Homo sapiens: one gene and its partner. The protein of the gene in region 1 purifies or fractionates together with the protein of each later gene. This does not show direct contact. Each region holds a gene or a part of one and is shown on either strand. Other genes may lie near its edges.

Region 1 (5,957 bases):
ACCCTGGGCTCTTTTTCTCCTCTCCTGCAGGTACGACACCATCACCAACCAATGGGAGGCGGTGGCCCCTCTGCCCAAGGCAGTACACTCTGCTGCAGCCACAGTGTGTGGCGGCAAGATCTACGTGTTTGGTGGGGTGAACGAGGCAGGCCGAGCTGCCGGCGTCCTCCAGTCTTACGTTCCTCAGACCAACACGTGGAGCTTCATCGAGTCCCCAATGATTGGTGAGAACCAGCGGTGTCCTCAGCCCAGGGCCAGGGTCGCATCCCTGCCTTGCTGATTTGTTCAGTATCCCATGCCCAGAAGTCAGGCTAAGCCCAACAGCTCTGCAGACCCAGATCTAGAGGGTGGCAGGAGTTGCCGAGCCCCCAGCTCAGGTGTCTGGAGAGGGGCAAGTGAGTCAAGGCTCCAGGTTCCCCTAGGCCCCGGACCCATCCCCAGGCCAATCAGTCACTTGTTGGAAGTCTTTCGAGCTTCCTTCCCTGGAGGGTCTTCTGGGAAAGAAAAGGAGAGGGAAGTCCAAGACAAGCTGCCGTGACCTGCCTGCTCTGCTCTCCTCACAGACAACAAGTATGCCCCCGCTGTCACGCTCAATGGCTTCGTTTTCATCCTGGGCGGGGCTTATGCCAGAGCTACCACCATCTACGACCCTGAGAAAGGAAACATTAAGGCGGGCCCAAACATGAACCACTCTCGCCAGTTCTGCAGGTGAGAGGCTGCGGCGCCTTGACTAGGGCTGGGACGGAGGAGTGGGAGGAGGAGGGGTGTGACCACAATGATTTCCTGCCATCAGTGACCATAGCAATTCCCAGGCCCAGAGCAGTGGCCCTCCCCCTCCAACCACAGGAGTGGGCATTAGCCCAGACCAGTAGGGTGGAGCCCACGGCAGCCTCTGGTCCAGGAGCCCAACCCCGGGGCTCCAGCTGGCCCCAGCTCCAGCAGAAATGAACCATTTCCTGAAGGCATCAAGGCTACCCTGCTCTCAGTGAGAGGTGAGGTCAGCTTCCCCCAGGACCACCTGCCCCATCACAGACAGAAGGCAGTGCCAGGCCAGAGCTGTGTGATGCCCTACAGGGACAAGTGACTTCTTGGGGGAATGCTCTGAGGACATGAACGATCCTGATGGCTTTGGGAGCTGTGCTCAGAGTCCCAAAGGCTGACTGGGCAAAAGCACACACAAACCCACCCCTGCAGGCAGAGAAGGTAGAGGGCTGAGTGTGGCTCGGTCCCCAGGCTTTCTGGCCCTGTGGCAGCGAGACACCAGTCCCTGCTCTTCCAGCCCCATCCTTTCCTGGACTAAGAGGAACAAGGAATAAAAAGGGGCCCCAAGGCCAGGTGCAGTGGCTCACACCTGTAATCCCAGCACTTTGGGAGGCCGAGGCGGATGGATCAGTTGAGATCAGGAGTTCAAGACCAGCTTGGCCAACATGGTAAAACCCCGACTCTACTAAAAATACAAAAATTTGCCAGGCGTGGTGGCATGTGCCTGTAATCCCAGCTTCTCAGGAAGCTGAGGCAGGAGAATCGCTTGAACCCGGGAGGCGGAGGTTGCAGTGAGCCGAGATCGCGCCACGGCACTCCAGCCTGGGTGACAGGAAAAGACTCCGTCTCACAAAAAAGAAGGGGCCTCAGAAACCTCATTGTCAGGACTCCCATAGCAGATGCTTCCTGAAGACATCTTGTGCCTATGTAGAGGTAACTGCAGAATCTTCAGTGTGGGAATAGCATGAAGTACTTAGAGTGCCCATTGTTTGTGTAGCATAGCTAGAAAAGATATAACCTCCTACTAGCATGTCAGTGACCTTGGACATATCCCTTCACCTCTCTGAGGAAGTTCTATCTGTGAAACAGGCGGTTGGACCAGACAACTGCTAAGCTCCTGTTGGACTGAGATTTCACAATTCTTGAGCCATACTTCCATGTCATGTACCCTAATGGTGGCAGTGTGCAGAGCACAGTCTGACTACCCCGTCCACTGATGCAGACAACTGGAGCATTGCGCTCCACTTGGGAGGATGCTCGCACCTTCTCTGAGACTAGAAGTAAATGGGAAAGGGCCAGGCACAGTGGCTCACGCCTGTAATCCCAGCACTTTGGGAGGCTGAGGTGAATGGATCACGAGGTCAGGAGTTCAAGACCAGCCTGACCAACATGGTGAAACCCCGTCTCTACTAAAAATACAAAAATTAGCCAGGTGTGGTGGCAGGCGCCTGTAATCCCAGCTAACTCAGGAGGCTGAGGCAGGAGAATTGCTTGAACCTGGGAGGCGGAGGTTGCAGTGAGCTGAGATCACACCACTGCACTCCAGCCTGGTGACAGAGTATGACTCCGTCTCAAAAAAAAAAAAAGAATGGGAAAGACTTAACGGCAAATGGCAGAGTTAAGCTGGGTCTTGCAAGATAATCAGGTAATAGGTGCACCACAGAAGGAAAATATGAGGGCCCCAGATGGCATGAACTAAGGGAGAGAAGACTGGAAGCTTCAGGGTCTGGTAAGAAGTCCAGACTGATGTGTTCTCTTTAAGAGATTTCAGAAACGGGTGGAGCCTTTGAAAAGGTATGTGTCCAATGTCAGGGAATAGCCAGGAAGAAATGGCCATTAGCTGAAATGAAAGAGTGTCAGGGCTAGAAACAAGGATGTGGACGTCAGTGCAAAGAAGTAGCTGAAATGCATTAAGGGAGTCAGTGCAGAGAGGGGCCAGATGCTGAGCCCTCATGATGAGAGGAGCTGACTGAGACAACAGGAGCAAGCCAGTGAGTGTCACACAGGGAAGGGGTCCAGGCACAGCCATCGGTCACCCTGCAGAGCATGCCCGGCCCTTGCAATCCTGGGTGGGCAGCAGCACCAGGTCACACAGAAGCACCTTGGCAGGTGGAGCTCCCAGTCAAGTGGCTGACATTCAATTCCAGCTGAGCTCCTTATTATTCTCTCTCGTCATTCTTGTGAGTCATGTTCCCAATTTGATTTGAGCAGTAGGAAGGCTGCGTGTGCCACACAAGAGCCTCCAGAAAGCCTCAGTGACCTGAGCTGAGTGCCCGCACAGAGATCTTTCGTCTCCTAGCCATGGTTAGTCACTCTGGCGGGGCAGGGAGGGAGCGCCTTCTGCCGCTCGCAGGGTGGCATAGCACGGCTTCCTGACTGGCCCTGGAGGACAGGTGTTTTTCTTATGCCAGCCCAGGTTAGAGGGCAAAGAAGGGCAGCAAGATCCCAGATGCCTTCTGCAAAAGGCACAGGCAGCCTACAACAGGACACGACGTTGAGAACCTATCTCCAGGGCCAAGTTGGAAGTGAAATGCCTAACTCTGTCCCCGCTTTCCCCCAACAGTGCTGTGGTGCTTGATGGCAAGATTTATGCAACTGGAGGTATTGTCAGCAGTGAAGGGCCCGCGCTGGGCAACATGGAGGCCTACGAGCCCACAACCAACACATGGACCCTCCTCCCCCACATGCCCTGCCCTGTGTTCAGACACGGCTGCGTCGTGATAAAGAAATATATTCAAAGCGGCTGACATCAGCAGAAAGCCCACGATAAGACTGTGGACAAGTCTGGTGAGGCAAGTGCCACGCAATGATAATTTTCCAGCGACACCAACAAGAGGCCAACAAAACACAATCAAGGAACTCACTGCGCTCAACATGTTGAATATTCTCTACATTGAATGTAGAAAATCATCCTCGCCTTTGGATGAAACGGAGGCACCGCGCTTGGAGCCGCAGGAACCACGATCCCGCCATGGGGCTGGCTGCCTCCTGAACAGGGGCGCTCGCTCTGCCAGGTGCAATAGAGTTTCACGTATTTTTCAACTGGGAGAGAGAAGCTGTTTTTTCCTTCCTGCAGAGCAAGCTTGATCCCTAAACAACCATAGATCAGTTATCTTATGACAACATTAGGCATCAGGCTCTCTTGGAATAAGATCAAAGTGTCCTTATCACTTTGATTCCTACTTTTGTTTTTTAACCGATCTACACTTTCAGTGGCCGACAGAAAACGAGGGACAATACTGTGCATCACAAGGCCTAGGAGGCTGCTGGTCCCCACTGGGGCTGAAGAGAAGCCCAGCTGCCCACGCGGAGCCAGGGGTGGCAGCTGTGGGACAGCCGGGGAGCAGGGACAGCGGTCTGTCCTTCACAGGTTTTTCTACTGTGTTTTTGCTGGAGAAGGACAGTGATTGCGCTAGCTTTCTCTTACCCGGTATGAATTATTTAGATTTCTGAGGCATTTTCTTGATAAACAAAAGGCTATTTTTAAGTACTGAGAGGAGGAGCAGGCCACAAGAGGGATAATGTTGTGGGAATTCCCAAAGCTCTTTGTAGGTAGTGCCAGAGGGGGGCTTTTGCTCTCATTTTTCTATGTGCAGAATAGAGGATCTCTCCTGGGGTGGGCGATGCCCCCATTTTATTTTTAGAAAAAGTAACTCCCAGACAGCCCCATAAAAGCTGTGCCCAAGGAAGAAGAGTCTGCTCTAGAAGGAGCCCGGTTCTGGCTCAGGACACCGGCCCAGCTCCCTCCATGAGGTCAAGCTGAGGACCAGGCCAGTGGGAAGGGAAGGAGGGAGAATTAGCGTCTATAAAGCACAGGAGACTATTTTTGATATTCATAGCTATATATTAAGGCACCTGCCACAAGAGCTCTCAGGATGGGGACAGCCTTCTTAGTGGAGCCATGGCAGCAAGGCCTGAGGGCATGAACAGAACCACTCTTCTTGTCACATACGAACCTGAGAAAAGGGAAGCCAGGAGGGAGGTCACACCATGGCTCAAAAGGGAAAGGCCTTCCCACTTGTCCTTAGCCCCTCAAACCTCACACGGTCAACAGTTTCCATTCCAGGGCAGGAGAATGCTGCCGCCACTGCGCTGTTGAGTTGAAGTTGGTACCAAATACACATTTACCACTTTTATATCTGGGAAGTCAACTTGCCATCGTTTCATGATAACAACCATTTATAAGAGAAAAAGACAGGACACGCTTTCCATCGTTCAGTATTTGATGACACAAAATTCCAGTTCTAACGTTGGGCATCAACTTCTAGCACTACGAGTGTGGCTCCCACTTGGACAAGATACCGAGCTTCGTTATGCAGTTTTTAATATTATTTATTATTTTAAAAAGTAATAAGCACAAAACTACATACATTGTATGTCATTTAAAGTATTTATGTCAAACAGGGTGCAAGTGTGAACCCAAGGACTGGAGCACAAATTCCTAACTGCCTGGGGCAGGGCTAATGTTAGCATTGGTGTGCGTCTGCCTCCAAAGGAGGTTCTAGTTGTCAGCGAGACTCAACACAGATGACATTGAAATTCGTTTCTCTCCTCATCTATCACACTGGAGCAAAACTGGCTATTTCTGTGAATGATATAAAACAGGGTTCTCTGTAATGGTATTGTACATAGTATATGTTTACTGTTAAGTTCTTGTTATATTATAATAAATATATTTATAGATCTAGACTTGGAAGCCAACGTAATCTTTGTGTGCCATCGTCCTGCCACAGGGATGCAAAACCTGTTCTACCCCTCATACATCAGCTGTATGGGTTCTCTTATAGACTTTAGTGCAGAACTTAATGATTAGAAAGGATGGGACTCCATATTGAGGGAAGGTTTAGAGTTGAAAAGCCAAGAAGACAATTGAAGGTAAAAGTTGAAAGGGACTTGCAAACACGCTGGCACTGGCTCTGAGGCTCTTCCTTTCATTGAAGTGCTCTTCTTATTACACTTGTGCAACTGAAAGCTTCAAAGCTGTTAGCTTCCCACTGGTATCACTGCTGTGCCAGGGACCCACTTAGAGCCACATGGCAAGTCCAGCTCATGAGCCTAAGAGGAGACACAACACACTTTCTCCAGGAAGAGGAATACAGGGTGATTTCTTTTCTTTTCTTTTCTTTTTTTCTTTTTTATTGAGATGGAGTTTCACTCTTGTTGCCCAGACTGGAGTGCAATGGCGCGATCTCAGG
Region 2 (7,029 bases), on another chromosome or scaffold:
CAAAAAACCCTTATAGTATTCCATAATTCAAACTTGTAAGCCTTAAGTACAAAGATATCTGAATTATACATAAGTCAAAGTTCATTAAGGTGTTCCCCTTACCCCAATTAGTCTAAATTAGTACACTTGCAAAGAAATCTGAATTAAATGTCAGTCAATAAAATTCACAAAGCCAGAAGCAGTTTAGTGCTCACAAGTTTATATTTTTAGGTTTGAATAAAGATTCTTGTGTATTTTCTAAATACACAGACAAAACAGTTCCGGAAGTTTACATACATGTCTTAGGACACTTATATTAGGTAGGTAATTTACATTTTAAAAAGTTGGTCTTCGTAAAAGATCTTCCCAAAGAGCTTTTACAAACAGCAGGCGGAAGTGTTCTTTTGTTTACAGTGTTCAAAATGCCAATGCTCCCACTAAATAATGGCCTCAACCATCTCTCCTCAACCCAAAATATTGTTCTCAATAGCTAGTGTACTCCAAATTTAAGTACCCAATGTCATAAAATTTAGGGCTAGAAAACATCTTTTGAAGTGTGCTTATCCCTAACACATTTTAAACTATCTAGAATTCTTTAACTTCAGTTGAAAGCAGAGATACAGCAGGAAAAAAAAAAAAACTTTCCATTTTAAGTCCTAAAGTGACTAAACACCTGTTAGTTCTAAGTGTGGATATTATGTACCATAGTTAAGTTTAAGGATCTGGGTGACTGAACGGCACAAAAACTGGGGTTTCTATCTAGTTCTTCAGATAAAAACCATTCTTTTATAAAATTAAAATGCCACAGCCAGTTAAGAGCATGTGCTACACTGATGTGTCTTAATATAGTCAAAGTGACAAAACAACTGCTTTATGAAGAAAGAGTAGTAAGGAAATTTATTGGGGGGAGGAAAGACACTCAAAATTCTAAACACAGCTGTCTTATAGGAAAAATATAATCCATAGACTCCATTAAGAGCTGAAATTCTACAAGAGTTGTTTAATGAGGCAGCAATAGAGCCTCCCTGAAAGAGTATGGGCTTCAGAATCAGACGTGGTCAAATTCGAGCTCTGTCACAGCTGTGTTAAATTAGCCAAGTTTCTGAATTTCTCTGAGCCTTTCCTCATCTATAAAATGGAGACAATTAGCACCTACCTTATAGAGGATTAAGGTAAAATCATGTATACAGCACAACGGCAAGTGTGGGCACTCAAAAAAAAAATTGGTAGTTTTTTTAATCGTTTTTCAGAAAAATGAATCTAAACCCTTCATGCTATGTTCAGAAAATCCTAAAAAATATAAATAAAGCTTACTAAAGTTTTAAAAATTAAGATTTTTAAACCTATTTTCCATCACACTTTCCCCCGTATGATACTACTACAGTGATATTCAGGCCGTTTACACCATTTTGTATTAATATAAATGCCCAAGTCCTAATCCTTTCATTTCCTATTTTCTCCTTCCTTTCCCCCATCTTTTCTTATTTCTTTTTCCTCTTGGTTCTTATCTATTATTAAACAACTTTAAGATGTGTTATGCACCTATTATGTACCAGTGTTCTAAGCACTTTACATGAATTAACGCATTTAGCTCACTCTTCTCCATTAGGATAGCTGTACCTAACCCAGCTAGTGTGTTTTCCCCAATTTCAAAGCTACTCATTACTGTTCAGTTTCCCTTTCCTATAACGTTTCTTCTTTTTTAAACTCTTAATTGCTAGTGTGCTAAATTTAGCAAAATATCTAGTAAATAAGAAAAATGAACAGGGGTCCATATGGAAGTATCTGTCTCTGAGAACTCTAATAATGCACAATCTTGATTTATGAGACGGTCTGTAACTACAGAGTGAATATGAAAGAAAGTTTATACTCTTCCCCTTCATTAAAAGCTCTAAAATACTTTTTCATTTAAAATATAAATTACAAGAGACAACTTCGCCAAATGTGTAACATAATTCTGCCAGAGTTCCACAGACAAAATTATGAGTATTTCATTGTTACCTCTGAGACCAATCATAAGTTCTTAGTATCTATCAACTTCCTGAAATTTTACTGTAAGTCAGAAAAAGAATACACTTAAAAAAATAGAAATGTCCAGTAGTATACCTTAGTACTAAAACTATTTTTTTAAAAGATCTAGATGGGAAAAGGCAGTCCCTCGAGATCATGAAACAAAATAAGTTAGGCAGTCAGCAAGTAGAAAAATCTGTCAATTCTGTTTCCGGTAAAATGTTTACTTCAAAGAAATTTTTATATAGGCTGAGGCTAATATATTCAAGAGTATAAACACTTTTCCTTTGGATTACCTAAAAACAAACTTTTAAAGTATCATATTTCAATTGACTAAAAATATAGCCAAATCTGTCACAACACAACATAAAGTAATGGACAATTATAGAATATTTTAAATTAACAGTAACAAGCCATCTACATCAAACCTTATTTCCAACTAAAACCAAACAAAAGCACAACAATCCCGTAGTGTACCAAGTGTGTATTTCAATTTACTGTATGCAATCTAACAAAAATTTGGTCATAATTTACCAGATATACATAAATGATTTAAGTAGTAAAAGAAAATTCAGCTTCAAGAGAGTAAGTTCATATCTTGAGGAAAAGTAAAAGTACATTAAGAATGTAAAGCCAAGTCCAGTTTCTATGCAATAAGTGAACTGTAGTCTAATAAAGCAGATTTAGGTGATTTTTAGATATATATCTTTGTTCTTTAATATATATTTATATATAGACAGATCTACCAATTGTAAACTAGTTTATTTAAAGGAAGGGGATAAATGGGATGAAAGAAATCTTTATACTATACTTACATATTCACAAAGAACATTTTACGTTTAAAATACTTTTTCATTCATAGTATCTTTGCCCAACTAATTTCTACCAGAAATACATTTTACTCATTTGTCTAGAACATTAAGAAGTACTCATCTGTTTTAAACAAAAATCAAACCGAAACTATTCTTATCTGTCAGGTTTACAGTTATGTAGAAACTACAATATAGATGACAAAAGATGCATCTAACCATGTAACTGTAATTTATCTTTGATTTATCCAAGCAGAAACATCATTGTCTAACAATAAACCATTATTCTACTGAAATCAGAGACAATGATAAAGCTTGTCTCTTAAAAAACATCAACTTTTCAACTTTGATCAGATGGAGCACCAAAGGGATTATATCTGTCAAAGCATCTTTGCAATTTTTTCCACATAACTAGCATAATTTAGTTACCTGATATAAAATAGGAAAATATACTCAATTTTTATTTAAAAGAAAGCTGAAAATATGACATCCCTCAATCTTATATAATATACAATATGCTAATAAATGCCATACATGTTAACAATACGTGAAATGCTGCTGAGAGTTCCACAATCAGCTAATTCATGTCACCAGGCTAAGTAAATCTGACAATTTCACCTCAATATGTCACCCTTTGTACCCTGAAGAATTTATAGAATAATAAAGCTTCTCAGAATTTTATTTGTAAGATTTTTGAGACTGTTGAATCATGGTGACTACTAGAAAGACTGTATCAAGGTGTAGTGACTTCAAGGACAGAAAAAAATAAATTAAGTATTGATCATAATTTCAAAACAATCAATATCCCGCTAAGTATGAAACAAAAGAGAATGCACATTTTGTGTTAATTTTCATGATAAAAGGGACACGGGTAAAAACCTGATATTTCACTTATATTGCATAACAAGCTAACCAAACTGGACATGGTGGATAAATTATAAAACAAATCATTTTACTTATTTCTATGATTTTTCTTTCAATTAGGTCTTTCAAATAGGACTGAGGTATAGTACACTGGCAAAAATAAAGAGGCAAACAAGAATAGTGCCAAAGTAACAGATACCCAAAACCAAATACCATGTCAGAAAATATCATATAGTAACCATTTATCAGATTAGAGCAGCAGAAGAAAGTTACTTCTAAATCATAATCATTTTAGTGGTATTTGTCAACTTCGCCACGGTAACTTCATAACATCATTCTTCATTTGTGAAGTAGTAAAATTCATGTCAAAAAGGAAGAGGGGAATGGAGGAAGTCAGTTAGTTCATTCCAATAAATTACCTCTCCAGTTCTTATAAACATGCCCATCAGCACAAAATCGAGAAATAATACCTAAGACTAGAAGAGACTTGGTTTAAGTTATGAAGCAAATTAAATGGAAAAATACAAGAAAATAGAACCAATGGGGTTGAAAAAGCCCCTCACTGAAAATCTGTATTAAAAAAAATAAAATTAATAAAAATAAAAATAGAAACAAAACTCTACTAGTACAAACTAGCCTGAGTGGTTTGATGGACAGAGTGATTGGGTCAATTGTCACTGTACTTCCATAAACGGATTTTCTCCATTCATGTTAAAGTAGCACATGAATGTAAGCTCTTTAAGGACTATTTTCATAGGACCCAAATAGTTACTGTATATCCTATAAATAAAAAATATTTTACTTTGATAACTGACTGAGTATGTGGGGACTCCATGTAATCCAACCACATGGTTGTTTGCTGTATAGTCCTGTGCAAATATAAAAAAAAATTTTTTTTGCTATAAGGCTTTGACCCTACAGTTTTCACAGCAACATAACTACTATCCAGCATGTACCATATTTTGCAAGCCTTCAAGTTCAACAATCCAAATTGTCGATTCATATTAGGTCCAAATGCAGCATCCTTGAGGAGTATAGTAGGTCAGTTAATCATCTAGAGACATACAAACTTCTCCTGATTCATCCCATCGAGAGGGATCATTCTGATCTTCTCCATCATCAACTAGCTCTTCATCAGCTTCTCCTACTTCATTCTCCTCGTATTCTTCATCCCGAGGGAATTCTGTATCCTGTCCCTGATCTACACCTTCTTGCCCTCCTGGCTGTGATTTATCTGCACAGTCTACACAAACACCATAACGTCGAGATCCATGTCTTATTCCAACACTGGCTGCTAACATGAAGATCTTCTTACACACCATACATTTGTATTTTTTATCCTTTTTATGCACCTAATTGGAGGGGGAAAAAATCCAATATAAGGATATTATATATAATAGAATGCATTTGAACCACTCAAATTAAACCACACATTTAATAGTGAGTGAATACACCAGTTTCTCTGTAAAAAGCTCACTATCAGTTCATAAAGTCAAACTGTTTAAAGCAATTTAGGAGACAATCTTCCTTAAATTCACAATTAACTGTTTAAATCCCTTTAAACTTCACTGACATAAATATAGTTTATCTCAAAGATCAGCTGTATTTAAAGTTACTTACCAGGGAATGTCTTTTTACATGTTCTCTTCGAGTAAACAGTTTTCCACAAATATCACAGCTAAATGATCTCACTCCTGTGTGAATGAGCAAGTGCCTTTTTAGTGTTCGTCTGTATTTGGCTACATAGCTACAATGAGGGCATTTTAACTTGTTCATGATTAGAGATGATTCACCTATGAGAATTAAAAAAAGAGAAAGTGCTTATTACACATTAAACAGAAAACTTGCTATCAAAACTTCTTATCTCTATCTCTGAGAACAGCAATTATGTGGAGCTACTGCTACTTGGTTTTTAAAAAATGCAGAACATGAAAGCTTTTAATTGTTAACAATTATTTAATTAATTCTGTATTTGTTTAGTTGACTAATACTTGCCATTTTCCCAGGTTTCTTGTTTTGGCCAAGATTCTGGCAATAATCCATACTTGAAATCATTTGAAGCACCTGGTATCAATCCATACTTGAAATCATTTGAAGTACCTGGTATCAATCCATACTTGAAATCATTTGAAGGACCAGGCATCAAACCATACTTGAAATCATGTGAAGTACCTAGTACAAGTAAAAATTCTGAATTAATAATGGTAATAAAGATCTGTCTCTCATCAGAGTCAGAAAACAGAAATTATATTTATATCCTACAGGCATTATGATAGAATTTCATAGTATGAGTTAAATAAAACTGTATTTTAGTCTAAAATTGAGATGTCTTCCTACTTTATTATCACAATTAAACAAAATACCATTCAACTATAGTAGAAGAAATTCAGTTAAAAAAATTAATCATGGGCCAGGCACAGTGGCTCATGCATATAATCCCAGCACTTTGCGAGGCTGAGGCAGAAGGATCACTTGAGCCCAGGAGTTTGCAACCAGCCTGGGCAACATGGAGAAACTCCATCTCCATCTCTACAAAAAAATTTTAAAAATTAGCTGGGCATGGTGGTGTGTGCCTGCAGTCCCAGCTACTGGGGAAGATCATTTGAGCCCGGGAGTTGCAGTGATTCAAGATTGCGCCACTGCACTCCAGCCAGGGCGACACAGTGGGATCATGTCTCAAAAAAAAAAAAAAAAAAAAAAAAAGGTGGCGGGCGGGAGAAAAAAACATGAATATCATTTAATTGTGCAGACGCCACAAGAAATTACCCTTTTAAAGGATGGGTATATTCAAACCAGAACTCCTAATAGTTGCTTTTTCTAACTACTCTATCACTTAAGATTTTATCACCCTAAAGCCCAGCTATCAAATGGGATATTCTCCTTATTACGAATCCAGGACAGGCACATAATTTTAAGATTAATTGGTACAGAAAAATAGACTAAGAATAAAGAATATATATAGGATAATTAAAAATGTAAAGTTCTATTACTAGATCCTTGTTTCAGACATATTAGGGCAAGGTAACTGAATGCTCTCAGGGTTCCCTGAAATTTCTTTCTAACTCCATCCTTAAATAAAATAACGTGCAGAAGATAGAATCAAAATAGAATAATACATGTGCCTAAGGATCTTCAGATTAGCAAGGACAGGAATTATATCCACTGGATTTAATTCCATCTTTAATGTAATTCCTTGGACCAGGAACCTTTTGGCAATAGGAATATATATCCAGAATCTTCCACAACTATTGCCACCCTGATCCAATCAATCATGAGCTCTAGCCCCTGGACTGTCTTCAGTAGCCACCAAAAACTTGTCTCCCTACTTCCACTGTTGCCTTCCTAGAGTCTGTTCTCAGCAGAGAAA

The links. The genes of interacting proteins can lie anywhere in the genome.
Region 2: the proteins of KLHL29 (region 1) and ZBTB10 purify together in Homo sapiens (affinity purification with mass spectrometry; 2 studies listed by BioGRID and IntAct, with this or other methods). This does not show direct contact.

What each region holds. Positions count from the first base shown.
Region 1 is NC_000002.12:23,703,156-23,709,112, forward strand, and holds the end of KLHL29 (kelch-like protein 29), read left to right. Parts: intron 1-30; coding exon 31-224; intron 225-563; coding exon 564-708; intron 709-3,325; coding exon 3,326-3,509; 3' UTR 3,510-5,451; downstream 5,452-5,957.
Region 2 is NC_000008.11:80,517,208-80,524,236, reverse strand, and holds part of ZBTB10 (zinc finger and BTB domain-containing protein 10), read right to left. Parts: intron 5,835-7,029; coding exon 5,658-5,834; intron 5,456-5,657; coding exon 5,283-5,455; intron 5,015-5,282; coding exon 4,709-5,014; 3' UTR 1-4,708. UniProt on the Homo sapiens protein: May be involved in transcriptional regulation.